Linked DNA regions of Homo sapiens: region 2 is linked to region 1. The links come from fine-mapping of genetic effects on gene expression. Tissue or cell type: whole blood. Region 1 holds a variant in brackets; the other region holds the start of a gene. All regions are shown on one strand. Distances are between the middles of the regions.

Region 1 (9,157 bases):
CTGTCCCCATCTCCTCAATGTGTAAAGTGAAGATCCAAACAGCATACACCTTCTAAGGCTGTTGTAAAGATTACGGGAGTTAACACATGTAAAAGACACAGAACAGTGCTTGGCACATTGTAATATTTGACAAGAGTTCAAAAGCTTCCATCTCCACTGAGGGATGGCACAATGGGAGTGCTCTCAGAAAGCCTTCTTTGAAGCTGCTGATCTCTTGTAGCAATTAGGATAGGCCAGGTTATGCTTCAAAAACAATATTTAAATTTGAATATCCCACGTTGTCAAAGGAATTCAGATGGAAGAATGAAATTCTGTGCTTAAACTTTCAGAAACCCAAGGGTGATCTCTGTCATTTCAAATACTTGAAGTTTGTTAAATGGTTTGTGGAAGAGTCAAGGGCTATATTCAGGACCGGGAGTAGGGTGAAGCAAGAGAGGCCCTAGGGTGTAAAACTTAAGGGATCATCTCTGCAACAAAGGACACAATAAACAGTGTGAAAAGGCAATCCATGGAATGGGAAACAATATTTCTAATCATATCTCTAATAAGGGGTTAATATCCAAAATATGTAAAATATTCCTGTAACTCAACAATAACAAAAAACCCAAATAACTCAATTAAAAATGGACAAAGGACTTGAATAGACCTTTTACAGAGAAGATACATAAAAGGCCAACAAATGCATGAAAGGATGTTCAACATCACTAATAACTAGAAGAAATGCAAATCAAAATGACAGTGAGATATTGTCTTACACTCATTAGGATGGATACTATATTTTTTTTAAAAAGACAAGATAACAAGTGTTAGTAAGGACATAGAGAAATTGGAACCCTTGTTCATTGTTGGTAGGAATGGAAGATGGTACATCTGCCTTGGAAAACTATATGGTGGTTCTCCCCAAAATTAAAATAGAATTACCATCTGATCCAGCAATTCCACTTCTGGGTACACACCCAAAAGAACTGAAAACATGGCTAACATGGTGAAACCCCATCTCTACTAAATATACAAAAAATTAGCCAGGCGTGGTGGCAGGTGCCTGTAGTCCCAGCTACTTGGGAGGCTGAGGGCAGGAGAATGGCATGAACCTGGGAGGCAGAGCTTGCAGTGATTGGAGATCGCGCCACTGCACTCCAGCCTGGGCGAGAGAATGAGACTCTATCTCAAAAAAAAAAAAAAAAGGAATTGAAAACAGGGATCTGAAGAGATATTTGTACACCCATGTTTATAGCAGCATTATTCACAATAGCCTGAAGGTGGAATCTCCCCAAGTGCCCACTGATAGATGAATGGATAAATAAAATGTGGCTTATACATAGGCATTAAGAAGGAAGAACATTCTGACACATGCTACCACACAGATCAACTTTGAAGACATGGTAAGTGAAATAAACCAGTCGTAAAAGGACAAATACTGTATAATTCCATTTATATGAGAAACCTAGAATGTCAGATTCATAGAGGGAGAAAGTAGAATGGTGCTTGCCATGTGGTTGCGGGAGGAGGCAGCGGGGAATGCTATCTATGGTTTCAATATGGTTTGTTTGTTCGTACCAAAACTCATGTTGAAATTTGGTCCTGCGTGTGTTGGTGTTGGGAGGGGGAGCCTAGTGGGAGGTGTTCGGGTCATGGGGTTGGATCTCCTAAGAATGGTTTGATGCTGTTCTTGTGATAGTAAGCTCTAGAAATGGATTTTTTCTATGAGAATGGGTTGTTATAAATCTAGGGTGCCCCTCAGGTTTTGCCCTTTTCACACGTGTCCATTTCCCCTTTGATCTTCTCCACCACATTGTGAGGCAGCAGTAAGGCCCTTGTCGGCAGCCAGGGCCATGCCCTTGAACTTCTCAGCCTGCAGAATATGAACTAAATAAACCTCTTTTCAATCTCTGATATCCTTTTATAGCAACACAAAATGGACTGAGCCAGGGAGTTATTGTTTAACGGGTAGACTTTCAGTTTGGGAAGATGTAAAAGTTCTGGAGATGGATGGTGGTGATGGATGCACAACAAGGTAAATGTACAAAATGCTACAGAGCTTAAAAATGATCAAAATGGTAAATCACTTAAAATCGTTAAAGTTGTAAATATTGTGTACCTTTTACCACAATTTAAATGTATCTAAGGAGGTGTCAATTTTAGGGTCATATAAATGTAGGGTTGGCATTTAGTTCCTCGCCTGGGCCCTGCTGGTATCACTCTGCTTTCCCAAACTTGTCTGGATGTTCCTCCCAGATTGAGAATGAGGTGACTAGAACAAACAATAATTATCATCATTGTTACTAATATTAGAATTCTTTTTCTTTTTTTAGATGGAGTCTCACTCTGTTGCTCAGGCTGGAGTGCAGTGGTGCAATCTCGGCTCACTGCAAGCTCCGCTTCCTGGGTTCAGCGATTCTCCTGCCTCACCCTCCCGAGTAGCTGGGTTTACAGGCGTGCGCCACCATGCCCAGCTAATTTTTGTATTTTTTGTAAAGACAGGGTTTCACCATGTTGGTCAGGATGGTCTCAAACTCCTGACCTTGTGATCCGCCCACCTCAGCCTCCCAAAGTGCTGGGATTACAAGCATGAGCCACCATGGCCAGCCTAGAGTTCTTTAAGATATGCGTTCCATGGATGCATTACAGGATGCCCACAGTGATTCTTACCTGCATGGCTACTTCTCATGGCAGGACAAAGAAGGTATATGGCATAGAAAATAAACAGTTTCAAGTAGATAGGGCTAGGAGTTTGGAGTCAGTGAGGAGCTCTGAATGTACTCCAAAAAGTTGCATCACTTAGTTCACTTTGTTTACTTTATATAGTTGAAATTAGGGCTTCTGAATTCCCATGCACATTTATGTAAGATAGTCTATAAATAAGGACATCCCCCCAGAGGCTTGGAAAATTTCTGTTTACTTCATGTTTGTTTCCTTCAGCATAAGGCTTGTAAAAGAAAGTTCCCGAGGTAAGCTAATGAATTGTGTACTTTCACAGATAAAGTGTAAGGAAAGTTATAGGTGTGGTACCTGACAGTAGGAAAATTAACAGAGATACAGAGTATGAGGCAAGATGATAGTAATTTACCAAGGGTACTCAGCAGAGAGGCGTGAATGAGGACAGAGTCACACTGTTAGTTGACATCACTTCTTTATGGCTTGCCTGAATATGAGGGGAAGGTGGGAAGAGAGAGGGGAAAGAAGAAGGAAGGAAGGAAGGAAGGACGGAAAGAAGGAAGGAAGGGAGGCAGGGAGGGAGGGAGGTAGGTAGGGAGGGAGGGAGGGAGGGAGGGAGGGAACTTTGCATTCAACATGTCTTCTATTTCAGCCAATGTCAGCCCTCCATTCAATCTTGCCCCCAAGTTTGATCCCATGAAATCATATCTATACTAAACTTCCTTCTAAATGTTTCTTCAGCGCACACATTTCACAATCTTCCTTCAGCCTCCTTCATTCCATTTGGGTTTCTGTCATTGTCTACCAACTAGGCTTTCTTGCTCCTTTCAACCCACTTCCCCTATTGCAAGCCATCAGTAATCCGGTAATCTTCCTAAAAGCGAGCTCTGTCCACAGCCCTCCCCTGCCTGCAGTGAATCCCAGGATCCCAGCTGCTTACCTGGCCTGGCCATGCCCCGCTTCCATCTGGAGATCTGCAGTCCATCCATATTGAACCCCTTTGTTTCTTGAGTGAACTGAGCGCTGCAGTTTCTTGGCTTTCACACCTGCTGTTGTCTTCACTGGGTACACCTCTGACCTTTTTGTTTCCTGGAACCTACTTCTCTTTGCCCTGTGTCTGGCTGAATCTTACTCACGCTTCAAATCTCAGCTTAAAAGTCTATTTCTCTAGAAA[A/G]GATTTCCTGAAGCTCTCTCCCCCAACCCTGATTCGGGTAAATGCTTACGCCAGGTGCTTCCTCCACCCTGGAACTTACCTTTGTTACTTATTTGATTGTTTTTCTCACTAGCTTGAAAGCTCTGCAGGGGCAGGGACTGTCTCTGTCAGGCACATTTATTTGCCAAGTGCCCAAAATGCAGCAGGTTCTTTGAATTTTGAAATGAATGGCTGTGTTGGGTGGCTCTGTAGGACACTGCTATGGACGGCTCTCAGTCGCCTGACTCACCAAGACCACCACAGGCTCTGGAAATTTGGAAATGTACCCAGTGGCCTTTCAAGTTTTGGTTAATCTCACTTTACTAATACTTTGAAGAGGCCAATGACGTTGCCCCTCAGTTCAAAGAGCAATTTCACATCTTTCTTGAGCCATCTGCTACGTGAACCTCTGTGAGTTGGACTGGGTGGGCACCAAATGGCAGCCAAAAATTAATCTTTTAGGGTCTCCTTATCCTAAATCTTAGAGCATTATAATGGCTGTCAAGAAATTCATAACTTCTGCGTCTTATCAGTAGAGAAATACCGACGTCTGTGGGTGGCAGATAAACAGATAACGGAGTTTTGTGGGCTTTGGGCATATAATTCTTTCTTTCGGTGTTAACCCTCAGGTCACGTCTTTCCAGCCCAGGAGAATAAATCAAACAGAAAGAGTCAGGAGAAACTGCAAGGCTAGAGTGTTAGTCAAATAGTTTACCTAGATGTTGAGGTGTCGGCAGTGATGAGAGTCATTGGGGTGGCAACCTCATCACGGCATTTAGAGCTGTTGCCCAACCCCTCCCTGAGACACCCCCTTCCAGTTTGAAGCCTCTCTGCCTTCAGGGCCCATGGTTTTCTAACTTCCTGCCCTTCTACTACCTGGTAATTCCTTGCTACCTTTGCTGCTCCTTCCCCCTCCTGTCCCTGAGAGGAGGGCCTTTCCCTGGTGTTTGCTTCTTACTTATCTTCCCTCTCTCCTCTCTCTCTTTCCAGCAATCTTGTCACTCCACGAGGGTTCAACTAGCTGCATCTCCTCAGCCCCATCTTTCTTGAGACTGCAGGGTCTGAATTTCTGAATGGAAATTCCTCCAGGCAGGTGATTCTCAATCTTGTCTCAAAATTAGAATTGACTTGAGGGCCTTAAAAATTCCAATGCTGAGGGCATATCCTGAACCAATTAAACCAGAGTATTTTTGAAATGAGACCTAGATATGGGATATTAAACTGACTGTTTTACTTATACCCAAGACGATTACTTTCACAATTCATTTTCATCTATCAATGGAATCACCATTTTTCTTGTCTACTAACTTAAAATTTTTAGAATTATCCTAATTTTTCCTTTTCATTTGTGTGGTACATGTCAATCAATCCATAAAACCTATTCTGTTGTTTCAACAATGTGTCTCAGGCATGTCTCTCATTTCTGATTCTACAGTTTTACTCTCTTCATGCCGTTATTATTTCTGATTTCTGTTACAGGCATTTTGGTTGAATAAGAACTAAGGTTTGAACAGGAAAGATGAGAAGAGCAGGAGATGAGATACCCTCTCCTCTCCTAGTCCTCCACCTCCATCCCTCTTCAGTTTGGATCCTGGCTGGGCTGGACCCCGCATGTTGACAACAAGGATGTGTTGTGTGGCATCTTTTTAATTAATTTTCATATATGAATTTACAGGTAGGGTAAGGATTTCTTCTGTGGAAAATGGTGCTGAGATTCCAATCCCTGCTGAGTTGAGGTTATAAAGCTATGGTTGACCTGGATGATCTCAGTTGAAGGTCATATTTTGGAAACGGTAACAGTGGCTCTGGTAGGGAGTTCACAACATGGTTGGTTCTGAGCAGGACCAACCATGTGTTAGGGAAAATATTTATTCAATAGAAAAATGAATAAAAACCAGAAAGAGAAGAAGAGAATTGCTGATTCTGGAAATGGCAAGGTGGCTGGTCCTGGAACTCAGCTTAGTCCACCCCTTGGCAGTTTTTAATGTATTCTCAGGGTAAGATGTGTACATGTATTTGTAAATGAGGCATGAATTTAAAGAACTGTTACTTCTGGGAACCCAGGAAGCTTTGCTGAGGGATCTTACCCTGGAGAGCACAGTATAAAAGAAAGTAATTCTCTCTCTTGCCTCATAGCAACTACTTTGGGGAAGGGACTTTACAAACATCTGCCCCAAGGCTGGGTGACAGCTGCATATCTGTGCAGTGTTTGTACGGGGCATGCAATACTTTACACACTAGCAGGGACACCTGCAGCATCAGTAGGTTTCTGGTCTACCAAGAGCAGTGTGATGATGCACTCCAGGCCAGCTGGGGTGGTTGCTGTGGCGAGTAACATTGTTAATTCTACCAACACAGGGGGCTGATGGGTAAATGACACTGTTGGCATCAGCAGTGGGCATGGTGTGCTAACCCTTAACACTGTGCCAGGTGGGGATGTTGGACCCAGTGGGGATTACAGTTTTGCTATCTGTGTGTAAGAACAATGCTCAGAACAGTGTGCAGCATGGGTTGTGCAGTGCACGACAGGGGCATGTGTGAGCACTCAGCAGATTATTGGAACTCCTTGGAAAACTGGACCAAGACCTCCAAGGCAGAAGGGTGCTTGGGGATATCACTGGAACTGTGAAATAACCATACATAAAAACTAAGACATTGTGATCAAAGTACATAATGTGCTGGCTAGTTTTTATTTTTATATTGGTTTATATTTTATTTTGTTTCCCATCTCTTGTCACTCCAACTTATTTGAAGCACTATTGTCAAGAATGACATTTTAAAGCATAATTTGCTGGCCAAGTTACAAATACTGCTCACCCTTGCTTCCACTCCAAACAAACAAACAAACAACAGCAACAACAAATGCTCCCATTTTCTATACTATGTCCAACATCCTCTAGTCTGCCATCTGCAAGCCTTCATGAGTGGGTAGTTCCAGGGATATTTCTCATTAGTCTCTTTCACAAACAGGTCCAGCAAAGAGAATTACTGACCCTTGCTCTCACGCTTTCTGCACTCTCCTGGCCTTGGGACTGTGCTCCTTTTGTTTACCTTCTCTCATTTTTTCTAGCTCCAATCCTGCCGGTCCTTCAGGGCTCAGATCCAATGCATGCCTTCCACAGTGCCCTTCCCACACCGCTCAGCTGGATGCAAACTCTTCCTTTTCTGTGGCTCCTTGTGTTTTTTTTATGAGGTTTTACCACTTTCCATCTTCTGCACTTATAATTTGTATGCATGGGTCATCTCCACTTATTAAGGATAAACCCCCTGCAGGCTGAAGCTTGGCCTGATATAACATTGCTTTTCTGGGCAGGACCAACCATGTGTTAGGGAAAATATTTATTCAATAAAAGAAAGAATAAAAACCAGCAGAAGGAACATTTCTATTTTTTTGCTCCTCACCACTGCCTCAGGGAGAACTAGGTGAGGTGTTTTGGGGTAGGAGAGAAGGGAGAAATAAGTGAGCTACCATATTTAAAGGTGACTAATGCTTTCCAAAGGAAATGAAAGCTTTGCAGTCATTACTATTTTGCAAAGCTTTATTTTCCCACTTAGGGGAGAGCTCTTCAATTTTGCAATCTGAAAAATAACTAAAAGCAACCACCACATGTAAGGCGGTCCCCACGGTCTCAGGAACTATTTTTAGGTCATTTGAACATGGTTTCGGCGGTGAAATGCTTCTCCAGCTCAGCTTCAGTGCCGTTTTCCTGACTCATGTTCGTTTCTCACGCTCCCTCTGGCCCGAGCCCATGCTCTTTACCTCATTCGTGTTATGCCATTTCCCCATTTGACTGTCCAAACTGGCACATCTGACAGTGGGCCCATAGCCACTTCCCTAAAACGTCTCCATGGGTGTCTGCAGTTTGTAGAACTTCATGGCCATCTGTGGCTGTGAGGAGCCAGGGGCCCTGGAAACTGCGTAAGGGTGGGGTTGGCAGGCACCAAAGAGTCTGAGCTCCTCTAACCAGGGCGTGAGCAGAAATAGAGATGCTTCCATCAACAGGATCACATCAAACACCCTCCTTTAAGTGTCTATATTTGATTTGTTCTAGCAAAAATGGGGCTTAGTGGACCAAATACCAACTTAGCATTTTTCATGAAGGACGAAATCCCAAACCACCTCAGCTCCCCACTGGGCACTGGGGCTCACCCAGTCACGTTCCTGCTGGTGACAGGTCTCCATCCCTTCCCTCCACTCCCTTCATTACCAGTACTTTAATGTCTAATCCAAGCACATAGAGCTGGGAACAACACGTGAAAGATTTCAAAGTGCAGAGCTAGGTCAAGCTTTGTGCATGCCCATCCATCCAGCATTTAGCTGAATGGTTTTGCACACACTGGGAATTGAACAAATACCTGGCCATGTAAACACAGTGGAAAGACAACTGGATTTGGAGAGAGGAGACCTCAGTTTTAGTTGGCTCAAGTACCAGCTTTGCATCTCTACCCCACCTCTGCCATATGACCATGGGCATGTCATCTACCCTACTGGAGATTTAGTTTTCCAATGCTAAGTCATCTCTAAGTCACCTCCCATTGTTCACACTCTCTGATTTTATTTGTGGATTGACTGATGTTATCATCAGTTGGCTAACATCAACTCCCCTGAGTTACCAGCAATGCCACCAACTGGTCTACCTGTCTTGTTCCTCTTCAGTCTAATGTCCACACTTCAGCCAGAATCATCTTTCTAATCAGCTTTCTTACATAAACCACATCATTTCATTCCTCTGATTATAACACTTTTCTACAGAAAAGCACTTGGTTTAAAAGTCCAAACGCACTAATGTGGATTTACGACCTGGCTTTACCCTGTCCTCCAATTCAGCCATACCCTCAGCTCCTCCAGCCCTTTGCAGATGCTGTTTTTTCTGCCTGAAGGTCTTTTCCATGTCTCTTTTGACCTATTCTTATTCATTCCTTGGGCCTCAGCTTAGACAGTGCTTCCCTTTAAGAAGCCAGTCCTGCACATCTCTCTGTGTGCCCATAGCATCCTGGGCTTATGCCTATTACAGTCCTATCACCCTGTCTCCCACTGTCTGTTATGCTCCTCTTTCCCGGACAGCCTCTAAAGGTAGCAGGTTTCCTGAACTTCACTGTATCCTCCATATTTTAGCACAGTGCCTGGCGCTGGTGAACCACTGAATGGATAACGATGCACTTGTACCTGGCTCCCATCCTGTGGCATTTCTTTCTCCAACATCCTAATTACCTGCATCATGGGGACACCCGCCCAGGTACTGACAAACCAACCTCCTGGCCTCTACTACTCATTTTTATAGCCACTACAATTTTCCCCAATAACAGCAG
Region 2 (10,529 bases), 49 kb after region 1:
GGGTGGCTGTGGGATAAAACACCTTCATGATGGGATGGCCTCATGCCTGTTAGAACCATGTTCTGGTCATTCACTCATTCAACCAACATTCACGGAATGTCAGTTAGGTACAGAAATTGTCGGTGAGGTATCAGAACATAATACAGGCCAGGGAAAGCTCTGTGTTAGTGTCTTTATCTGGAATTAGGAAAAGAAGAAGTGGAAGAAGATGATGAGGAGAAGGGGGAGGAGGAAGAGGAGGGAGAGAAACCTTTTCTGTATGTTTGGTATTTTACACGATGCAGGTCAGGTTCCGTGGGAAACAATCTGAGATTCTGAGATGTGCCTGCAGGATGTTCACTGAAGAACGCTCTCAGACATCTATGAGAGGCAAAAAGGGAGAAGGATTGAAGTGGGGGAGGCTAAGTGCTGGGCAGTTGCATGGAATCAGCTGATCCCTTGAGGAGCTCTGAGCTGAGCTGCTCGTTCAGAGCTGTCCGGGAGTGCAGCATTTGCACCCCATATTGGATGCCAGTTATGGCAGGCAGCAACGCCAGGGAGGGACCTAAACCTTGGTCGAGGCAGCTCCCTTCTGCTGAGGGCAATTCTGGGAGGGGATCTCAGCTTTGCACCATCAGCAGCCAACACTCCTGAGAGCTGGGGACTGAGTACCTCAGCGCTGGGGAGGTATGAGGATCTGGGTGCCTTATCAGAGTATCCACTGCACATGAGAAAACTGAAGCACAGAGAAGTTAGGCAAGTCACTCAAAATCACACAGCAAGTGAGCACAGCCAGTGTTCTGGTTTCAGAAGCCAGGTCTTCAATCACTCATCTCTATACTGCGTCCAAAGAACCTACCAAAATGCTGTCATAGTTACTTGCTCAATAATTTATAGCTGCTTTATTTTGGGTGCTGGTGGTGACTATCACATAGTTCTCTCAGTCCTTACCCTTTCAGCTATTGAAGTGCATCTTTGTGAGGCAGAAATAGTTAAGTGTATTTCTGACTCCACGTTGCTGAAGAGTGCCATAGGGGTTGGGTGCGGTGGCTCACGCCTGTAATCCCAGCACTTTGGGAGGCCAAGGCAGGCGGATCACAAGGTCAGGAGTTTGAGACCAACCTGGCCAACATGGTGCAACCCCATCTCTACTAAAAATACAAAAAAAATTAGCCAGGCATGGTGGTGCATGCTGTAGTCCCAGCTACTGAGGAGGCTGAGGCAGGAGAATTACCTGAACCCAGGAGGCAGAGGTTGCAGTGAGCCAAGATTGTGCCACTGCACTCCAGCCTGGGGGAACAGAGAGAGATTCCATCTCAAAAATAAATAAATAAATAAATAAATAAATAGTGCCATAGATTATTACTTAAGGTTGGTCCCCCAAGTGTTGAAGTGGGTGCCATACTATAAATTCAACCCCATCTTCTCACTGTTCACAGGCTGCCTTGAAGTTTAGACCCATAGAGGCCTCCCAGCTCCTCTGTTCCCCCAGCCCCAGGCCAGCAACCCCAAGGACTTATGTGGTATTGCCACTGTTGTCATCATGAGAAGTTGAGGGTGATGACGACGGAGCTGCCTGGGGCTTGGGCAACTTATGAAAAGGGAGGGAAAGGTCATGCTTCTGTTGTTGAAGGGGGTGTCAGGGGCGTGGGGAGGGAGGGGCCCACTCAGAATCTCCCCTGGAGATCCCAGTTATGTGGCCCCACCTCTAACAATGTTTCAGAAGGAAGCTTATCTTTAAAAAGAGGAAACCCTAATAAACTGAATGAATTCTGCGAGCCAAGCTGTGGCTGCTGAGCCTTGCCCTAAACCCCCTAGCTCATATTCTCTGGGATTAGGGACAGTCCCTGGATGGAAATGGGGTGGACAGAGAGCAAGGGACATAGCATTTGTGGAGGACTCAGGCACTGGATGATCTGAGCCAACCTAAGCTGCTTGAGGACACCCATGGCACTGCCTTGGTCTCACGCCTAGCCTCTGGGGTTCCCCATTCTGCATGGCTGTCTGCTGGAGCCTGCAGACTCTACCACCAGGACGGCCTGGTGCCTGCGGGCAGCTACAGCAGGGAGAGCAGTGGCTCGACAGTGGTCCTTCTCCAGCTGGGAAGATGGGGCATGCAGCTCGGGGAGGGAGAAATAGTAGCCATGAAGGGGAAGGGGGTGGATGACTCCTGCTGGCCTCCACCCCGCAACAACCTAGGTGCTCAGTGAGGAGACTGATGTTCTACTAAGTCACCCTCCTGCATCACCTTCTCTACCCAGAGAAGTTCACCATCACCTCCCCATCTTCTCTCCCCACTGTCCACTGCCTAACACCCTGCTGACGCCATTCTGAGCGCTTCCCACCTGTCAGATCATTTCTCCCCCATGGCTACCCTATGGTTAGGTACTATTTTTATTTCTATTTGACAGACGTGGAAATGAAAGACACAAAGAAGTGCCTAGCCCAGGGTCTCGGGGGCAGTAAGCAGTGGGACTGAGGTACCATCCCAGAGATCGCAATTGTAACCATTGTGAAATACCACCTCTCCCTCCCAGCAGGGAATCAGTGGCCCCTTCACTGAGGTCAGTTTACTCTCTTATTAGGCAGAGACTCCCATCTGTCCTCTCCTACCTTCACTCTCCTTAGTCAGAAATGGGTCACCCTGACCAATTCTCAATGGCACCTTAGCCACTACCACCAACCCCAGGGGAGTAGCTCAGTGCAACTCGTGTCTGTCTCCTGTCTCCTGTCTGTCTCCCCTTCCAGTCCCCTGGGATAGCTTCAAGGGGAACTGGGGCAATGCTCACAGTGCCAACTGGCACAAAAGGGGGCTTTGCTCTTACAAAGGGGACAAAAATGATACTCAGCCAATTAGAAATTCAAGCTGTTTACGAGGAGGGGTGTAAATTTTCTGGTAATCAGGACTGGATACTAACTTCCCCAAGGTGAGGTAAAATAAATATAAGAATGTGAGCGTAAGTTGTGAGACCTTTATGACTTAATAAACACAACCACCAATTAATTAGTCATGAATGAACACTAATTAATCATTAGGAGACACAACCATTAATCAGCCCATGAATCTCAAGAGCTAGACATTTGCAGGTCCAATATTTCACCTTAAGCAACATATTCGAAATCTACATTAAATCGATCCTCTGAAATACACTCAACCCATCTTCACCAGTTGGGAAGCATTTCATTAGGTCACACTTTCAAGATGACTCCTAATGGAGCTCAGAAAGAAAATCACCACAGGCAAGCCCCTCTCAGCTTATTTACGAGGGCCAGAAGATACCAGAAGAGAGGGACTGCTTGAGGATGCAGAAAGGCTGAGGTCACGTCAACGTACCAAGTCGCAGCTTTTTAATATCTGGGTATCCTGTGCCAGCCACTGTGCTGAATTCAAGGTAGAAATATAGACAGTTAGGGTTGGCAAGGACCTAAGATTAAAAAAAACTTCTGTTTTGGAGCCAAAGTTTGATTGGAATGTTAAGACTCACATGGCAGGGAGAGAGGGAATTAGAAAACAATACTACATATAAATCAGCAGAGACTGAGAGATGCTGTGAAAATCAGAGAAAGGAAAAGGAAATTTGGACTGGAGTTGGTCAGCAAGGATTTGGGAGGAGTATATGTGATTCCCAATGTTCTATGAAAGAAGCAATGTGGTGGAGAGAGGTAAGTAGGCCTTTCTTCTAAGGATAGAGAGAACACCGGGCAGAGAAGTGACAGCAGGAAGCCCAAGGACCAATACTAGTGAGACGCAGTCCTTACTGCAGAAGAGACCAGCCTCCCAGGGAGAGGGAACCCGAAAGGCTGGTTGGGCAGGTGAGCTCTTGAATCGGGAGTTTGACATTGGGTCCATGAGGCAGGAGGGAGCCACTGTGGTTTCCTGAGCGGCAGGCCACACTTTTAGATCCAGGTCATGGTATTAAAAAACAAACCAAAACCAGTGCTTTGAGAAGATTAATTTGGAATCTAAGTGGCTGGATTGGACCATGAATGGACAGTAAAGAGATGATATGGTCATCCAGGTAGGCTTAATATAAGCCTGGAATGAGAGAGACAGTAGTAAGGTTGAAGAAGAAAGGATGAACTTAGTAAAAGGAAAAACTAATAGGATTTGGTAGCTGATCAATCAGGGAAGCAAAATTGGGATTAACACTAGGAAATGATAGTATCATTGACAAGATAAGAGACTTTTCTCACTCTTGGAAAATAAGGGCTCTTGGAAATGTAGGTGAGCTAGAATTAAAAAGTCAGGATCAGTTGTGTGTGTGTGTGTGTGTGTATACAAAGAGGTAAGGGAGCTAGTTAATGAGTGTGGTGATAAATCTATTCTTAGCCACACATAGTGTGAGGTAGGACATTCATACTGGAATTGGATTTTATTAGAAAGTCAGTCCTAACTACAGACACACTTCCCTTTTAGTGGACTGTTTTTCATAGAAAGCCAATAGAGACACAAACCTTAGGGGTGTGTGTGTATGCGCGTGTGTGTGTGTGGTTTTTTGTTGTTGTTGTTTACTGTGGCACTGCTAGTTATACAAAAAACATTTTTTGTTTTGTTTCTGTTTGTTTTTCTCATAAAATTCCATGATTGAAACAAGTAGTCACCTTGAAGTTTTCAAAGACACTAGAGCTGTGTTCAGGGTTCCAATTTTTCAGGCCCAAATCAAGAGGCCACTAACCAACCAGTGAGGAGGAAGCAGCCACTTTGGGCCTCTTTGATTTTAACTCTCTCCATTTCCACGTCCTTAGCATTTCAGAGTGTCACAGTTTCTGACCACATACATTCTCCGCTTGTCAAATGAGGATTACAATTCTGAAAACAGATGTTTATGTGGCACCCAAGATTTTAGTCAAAAACCTCAAATATTAATTCACATCCCCAAATGATTCCCCATTATTAGCTTTTAACTTTAAAAGTATTTTTTTAAGCTATTCCTCAAAGTATTTTTCATAATCTGCTTTTCTCCCATTCATTCACACTTCATCAGAATGCAGTCAGCCAGGTTAGGAAGACAAGAAAGGAGTAAGTCATAAGATTGGTTTTTAAATAGTTGAAAATGTGTATTTGCCATTCGGTTGGGTGATTTGTCCTTTAAGATGGAGCCTGAACCTATAAAAAATTGAGGTGGGAGCTGAACATGGCAAAATGTGTTTGCTTTTCTTAGATAAATCTGTTAGTCTGTGTGTGCTGTAAAATGGCATTATTCCTTCATTGGAAATTACACTTCCTACACACCATACGCCACTCTGCCTTCTCTTCACAGACTTCCCCAAGCAAAGTTCAAAATGCCTCCTGCATTTGTAGTTAATCCCATGGTGAAACCATTAGCATGGTCCCCTCTTTGAGCTCATCTGAAAAGAGCTCCAAGATGAGATTTTTTTTTTCAAGAGAGCATTTAACAATGAGCCAGCATAGAAATGTTAACTATAGATAATTTCCAAATTGGGTTTATCAGAGCAAATTGTTAAGTAAACAAAAAACCCAAAACTCACAAAACGGTGAAGAAGGAAGACAAATAACAAAATTGTGTATTTAATAAAATCCAAAGATGATATGTGTGGCAGCACTGATATTCTAGAGAAATGGATCGGTTCCTGGTACGGACATATGGACTTACCAGATTAAGCAGCGTCATATATTTCCACCTTGCACCATTTGCCAAGATTTTGGGTTTCACCTCGTCTTTTCCTTCCTGTGAGATGTAATAATTGAGGAAAGTATACCAGCTCAGAACAAGGAAGTGGTATATGCATGTAGAAGTCTTCGTCATGGCGAGTGCTGACCGGGGCACCGTGAATGTCTTGAGTACTTTCTGGCGTCCTTCTGTGGGTCACAGCCTAAGTCCAACAGCAGGCCGGAGAGCTACAAACCACACCCCTCTGGGACTGAGAGTTCCAACACAGGCTGAATTTGGTTCTCTTTTAAGCTCCTTTCCTGATAAACTTCAGAGGCAGGATTACTGCTGGTTTTCAGATGCCTGCATTTAGATAATGATAGATAATCTGTAGATTTGCATAAAATACAACATGTGGGCTTTGAGAAGGGCAGGTAGCAATGCAAGAGCTGTACATTGTACTGTTTCACTAGGGCACTGGGGCAGGGGCATGGTTAAATGAAGTAAGCATGAAATACTAGGAAAATCTAGCGAAATACTTCCATGGCTGTAGTCTCTTTTCTTTTCATTTGCATATAACAAGGAAGTTGCAACCTTATCTCTTGAGAAAAGGAGGAGCAGGTTGATAAACCAGATCATGGGTGTGCTTAGGGCATGAACAGTAGAAAGGAAAAGTGTGTTGTAATTTTGCTCCTGAGGTCTCTGAGATTCTAGAAAGTCTGCAACAACCTTTGATCCTCCAGGGAGCAGCTCCAATGGTTTCTTTTCTTTTTTTTTTCACTTTTGTAACTATACCCTAGAGAACCAAGAGTAACCCAGGGCTGTCCTAGACACTCCATTTGCATAGGCATTTCTGTGCCCTGGGAGGGAAGAAGCAGCACAGGAGACCATCCTTACTATGGCCATGACCCCAAAATACCTGACTTTAGACATTGCTGGGAGAGGGTGAGAGTCCCCGCTCTGCCATGAATAGGATGAGACGTGGCTGGGCTAGGCAGCATGCCGGACTAGGCTCTGACTCAGGTTCCACAGAAGGGAACTGAGGAAGAACTAGAAGTGGATGCCTTGTGACATCGCCAGCTTGTTTCCCTGGGCAACTGACTCCGAGGGGTGAGCAAATCCCTCAGAGAAATGCTCCTGACACAGTTATGTAAGTCTGTAATTGGTGCTTTTCAATGACTTAACCAGGGCTTAAAAGTACTAGCAGAAAGAACTGTAGGCTGGACAAGGAGGACAAACCATAAACAAACCCACCTCCTAAGAGTCAACAGACTCCCAATATCAGGATTGGGAGATGGGAGGAGAGCAAACCTGAGCCCGCCATGGAGTTCTGCATTGTAACCATGTTTTTTTTTTTTTTTTTTTTTTTCATCTGTTGGGGCTGCTATAACAACATACTGTAAACTGGGAAGCTTGGAAACAACAGAAATTTATTTCTCAGTTCTGGAGGCTGGAAGTCCAACATCAAGATGCTGACAGAGTGCCTGGTGTTTAATGTGGGTCGGTTTCCTGGTTCATAAATAGTGCCTTCTGGCTGAGTCCTCATGTGGTAGAAGGGGCAAACAAGCTCCCTGAGGCCTGTTTTATAAGGTCACTAATCCCATTCATGGAGATGCTGCCCTCATGACCTAATCACCTCGGAAAGCTCCCCTCTCCTAATGCCATCACCCTGGGAGTTAAGATTTCAACATAGGAATTTGCAGGGAACACAAACATAGACCATAGCAAACCATTCTCAAAGGAAGGGGTGATCTGGGAAATGGGTACATAAAACTCTGTACAAAACTCCACAGCCTGGGCTAAATTGCAAATAATAACAGAAGCTAATACTTTTATAGTACTTACTGTTTGCTAAACATTGTTCCAGTTGCTTTACACATATTAGCTGATTAGCACTCTAAATAACACTATGAGGTAAGTACTATTACGAATTAAGTACATTTTCAGATGAGGAAATTGAAGCCCGATCTGCTAAAAGGATGTGTTCAACACTTTGTAAGAGGCAGAGCTGCCGTCTGAACTCAGTGTGATGGTTAATATTGAGTGTCAACTTGATTGGTTCGAAGGATGCAAAGTATTGCTGCTGGGTGTGTCTGTGAGGGTGTTGCCAAAGGAGATTAACATTTGAGTCAGTGGATTGGGAGAAGCAAACCCACCCTCAGTCTGGGTAGGCACCATCTAATCAGCTGCCAGCGTGGCTAGGATAAAGCAGGCAGAGGAACGTGGAAGGACTAGACTTGCTGAGTCTTCCGGACTTCATCTTTCTCCCATGCTCTCAGGATGCTTCCTGCCCTCGAACATCGGACTGCAAGTTCTTCAGCTTTTGGACTCCTAGATGTATACCAATGGTTTGCCAGGGACTTTCGGGCCTTTGGCCACAGACTGAAGGCTGCACTGTTGGCTTCTCTAATTTTGAGGTTTTGAGACTCGGACTGATCCACCACTGGCTTTCTTGCTCCTCAACTTGTAGACGGCCTGTTGTTGTGATTGTGTGTCACTTCTTAATAAATTCCCCTTCTTATATACATACATCCTATTAGTTCTGTCCCTCTAGAGAACCCTAATACAACCAGTGTACCTGCCTACAAAGGAACAATGTTGCTCTGCACACTCTCAGACTCCCACTTTGATATTTCTCCTCTCCCTACTGAGTGCCCCTTTTTTTTTTTTTGAGATGGAGTCTCGCTCTGTCGCCCAGGCTGGAGTGCAGTGGCGCGATCTCGGCTCACTGCAAGCTCCGCCTCCCGGGTTCACGCCATTCTCCTGCCTCAGCCTCCCGAGTAGCTGGGACTACAGGCGCCTGCCACCACGCCCGGCTAATTTTTTTTGTATTTTTAGTAGAGACGGGGTTTCACCGTGTTAGCCAGGATGGTCTCGATCTCCTGACTTCGTGATCCGCCCATCTCGGCCTCCCAAAGTGCTGGGATTACAGGCGTGAGCCACCGAGCCCGGCCGAGTCCCTTTTATTCTTCTCTCCTCTCATCAGAAAATTATCTCAGAAAAGGATCAATATGTTTTGAAACTTGGTGCACATATGAATGAATGAATGTCTCCAAGGGTGTTTTCATTTTAGACACCATTGTTGATTTAGAGGTTTTATTCCTTTATACAAAAAAAAATCTCAAGTCTAAGTCTGCAGATGGGTAAGGATTGACGCAAAGGTAGGAAAGGAGGGGAAGACAAAGACCCAAATCTCTGAGATGTGTGTGTCCAAACCTGGACACTGGCCTTTCACCACCTAGATGGTTTTTTTCTCTACGTTAGCCTCATTGCCCACAGATGGGGCCTCTCATAAATATTGATAAAATTATTTAAATTTATTTGTAAGAGTTTTAGTGTTTTACATTGGGATCCAATGAATTGTTAGCATTTTAATAAATAATGACATTAATATATAAGGATTTAATAACATGTAATATCATTTTAATACATATTAATAATTAATAAAATGATATTTTAATAAATAACATGTATATGTATATAAGGATTTAATAATTACATGTAATATATGTATATAAGGATTACATTATGAGTTAAGGATTATGAATTAAGAAATAGTTTTATTTCTTAAGAAATATTTTAATATTTTAAGAAATAAAACTATTTCTTAATTCAACATCTGCATTTTCTTATAAACTTTTCACAAAATTGTTGCCAATGAAAAATCTACATTGCAACCATATTCACATCATAATTTGTGTTCCTGGTTGAATAACCAGATCCATTTTCATGAAGTAGCCTGAACATCTGTTCCCCACCATGAGACCAGGTGGAGCTTTGGAGAGCAATGAATGTCACCTCTTAGTTGCACGTTATAAACTAATACATACTAAGCGTGCTGTTTGTCTGCCTTTTCCTTTCTCCAAGTATCTGAGGGCTTCACGTCATATCCAGGAGAAGTGGGAAGGAATTGTTCAAAACTTTTATTATTTTACACAGGAAATTTTAAACATTTAAAAATAAGCATATTTCATACTTTGATTTGGATACTACACAGGCCACTTGGTTACTAAGAGTGACTTTCTTTGAAACTCTCTACCCCCCTGGGAGTCCGCAACATGATTCTTTAATTTCACAAATACTTATTAAGCAACAGCTATCTGCTAGGTCCTGGGGATTCCCCGAGGAAGAAGAGCGATGCAAACCCTGCCCTCATGGAGCTTATATTTTAGCAGGAAAGATGAACATTAAGCAACAACAAAAACAAGTGTTAATTTATAACTATGGCAACTTCTGTGAAGGACAAACACAGCAGACTTATTAGAGGGGATGGCAGTATCAGACCTGGTGTGGGTAGGGCGTCAGGGAAGCTAGCCCTAAGGAAGCCACGTATGAGCAAGGCTTATTCTCCCAACATGCTCTTACTATCCTTCTCAGTCTGTTTAATGAGCTCCTCTTCCTCCACCAGCTCCTTCTGTGTTGGCATTCCCCAGAGAGCTGGTCCAGCTTACCGTCCGTCTCCCAACACATACTCACCCTAGTGATTTTATCCATGATCATAATTTCTACCACTGCCTTCCAGTTTGTGACCACAAATTATATACCTCTGGTCCAGGCCCTCTCCCTATCCCCACCAAGCTTCAAACACATCTTTGACTACCTGTTGGAATCTCCTGAAGGAGACAGACACGCCTCAAACTCCATACGTCTAAAACGAGCTCACTGACTTCCGCCAAACCAGGCTTTTCTTCTCTAGTCTCTGTCCTGTGACCATGGCCTCACCATCGACCTGGGAGCTTCCTGTGTCCTCCCGCTTTTTTACTCTTCAAATCCAGTTAACCACCAAATCCTGCCAAGTTCATTTCTTACATCAGGGTCAAATCAGTCCCTTTCTTTCCATCCCTTCTACAACTGCCCTCGTTCAAGTGGCCTCCATCTCTTGCCACCACCATAGCAACCAGCAACCTAGCTGGTTTTCCTGAATCTAGTTTGATGCCC

Evidence for each region.
Region 2: it holds the start of ADTRP, and the variant in region 1 is fine-mapped to the expression of ADTRP in whole blood (TOPMed, PIP above 0.99).

Annotation. Positions count from the first base shown.
Region 1 is chr6:11,724,732-11,733,888 of GRCh38, forward strand. All of the region lies in intron 4 of ADTRP (androgen dependent TFPI regulating protein), which reads right to left. It overlaps LOC124901258 (a long non-coding RNA gene), which reads left to right and starts at 2,434. Exons shown (of 2, transcript XR_007059452.1): 1 at 2,434-2,683; 2 at 5,327-6,516. RefSeq lists enhancers at 4,803-4,972, 7,357-7,656, 7,937-8,026 and a cis regulatory region at 4,888. The variant A/G (reference allele first, on the strand shown) is at 3,830.
Region 2 is chr6:11,773,013-11,783,541 of GRCh38, forward strand. ADTRP (androgen dependent TFPI regulating protein) reads right to left here and starts at 5,791. Exons shown (of 6, transcript NM_032744.4): 1 at 5,595-5,791. The coding sequence starts at 5,747.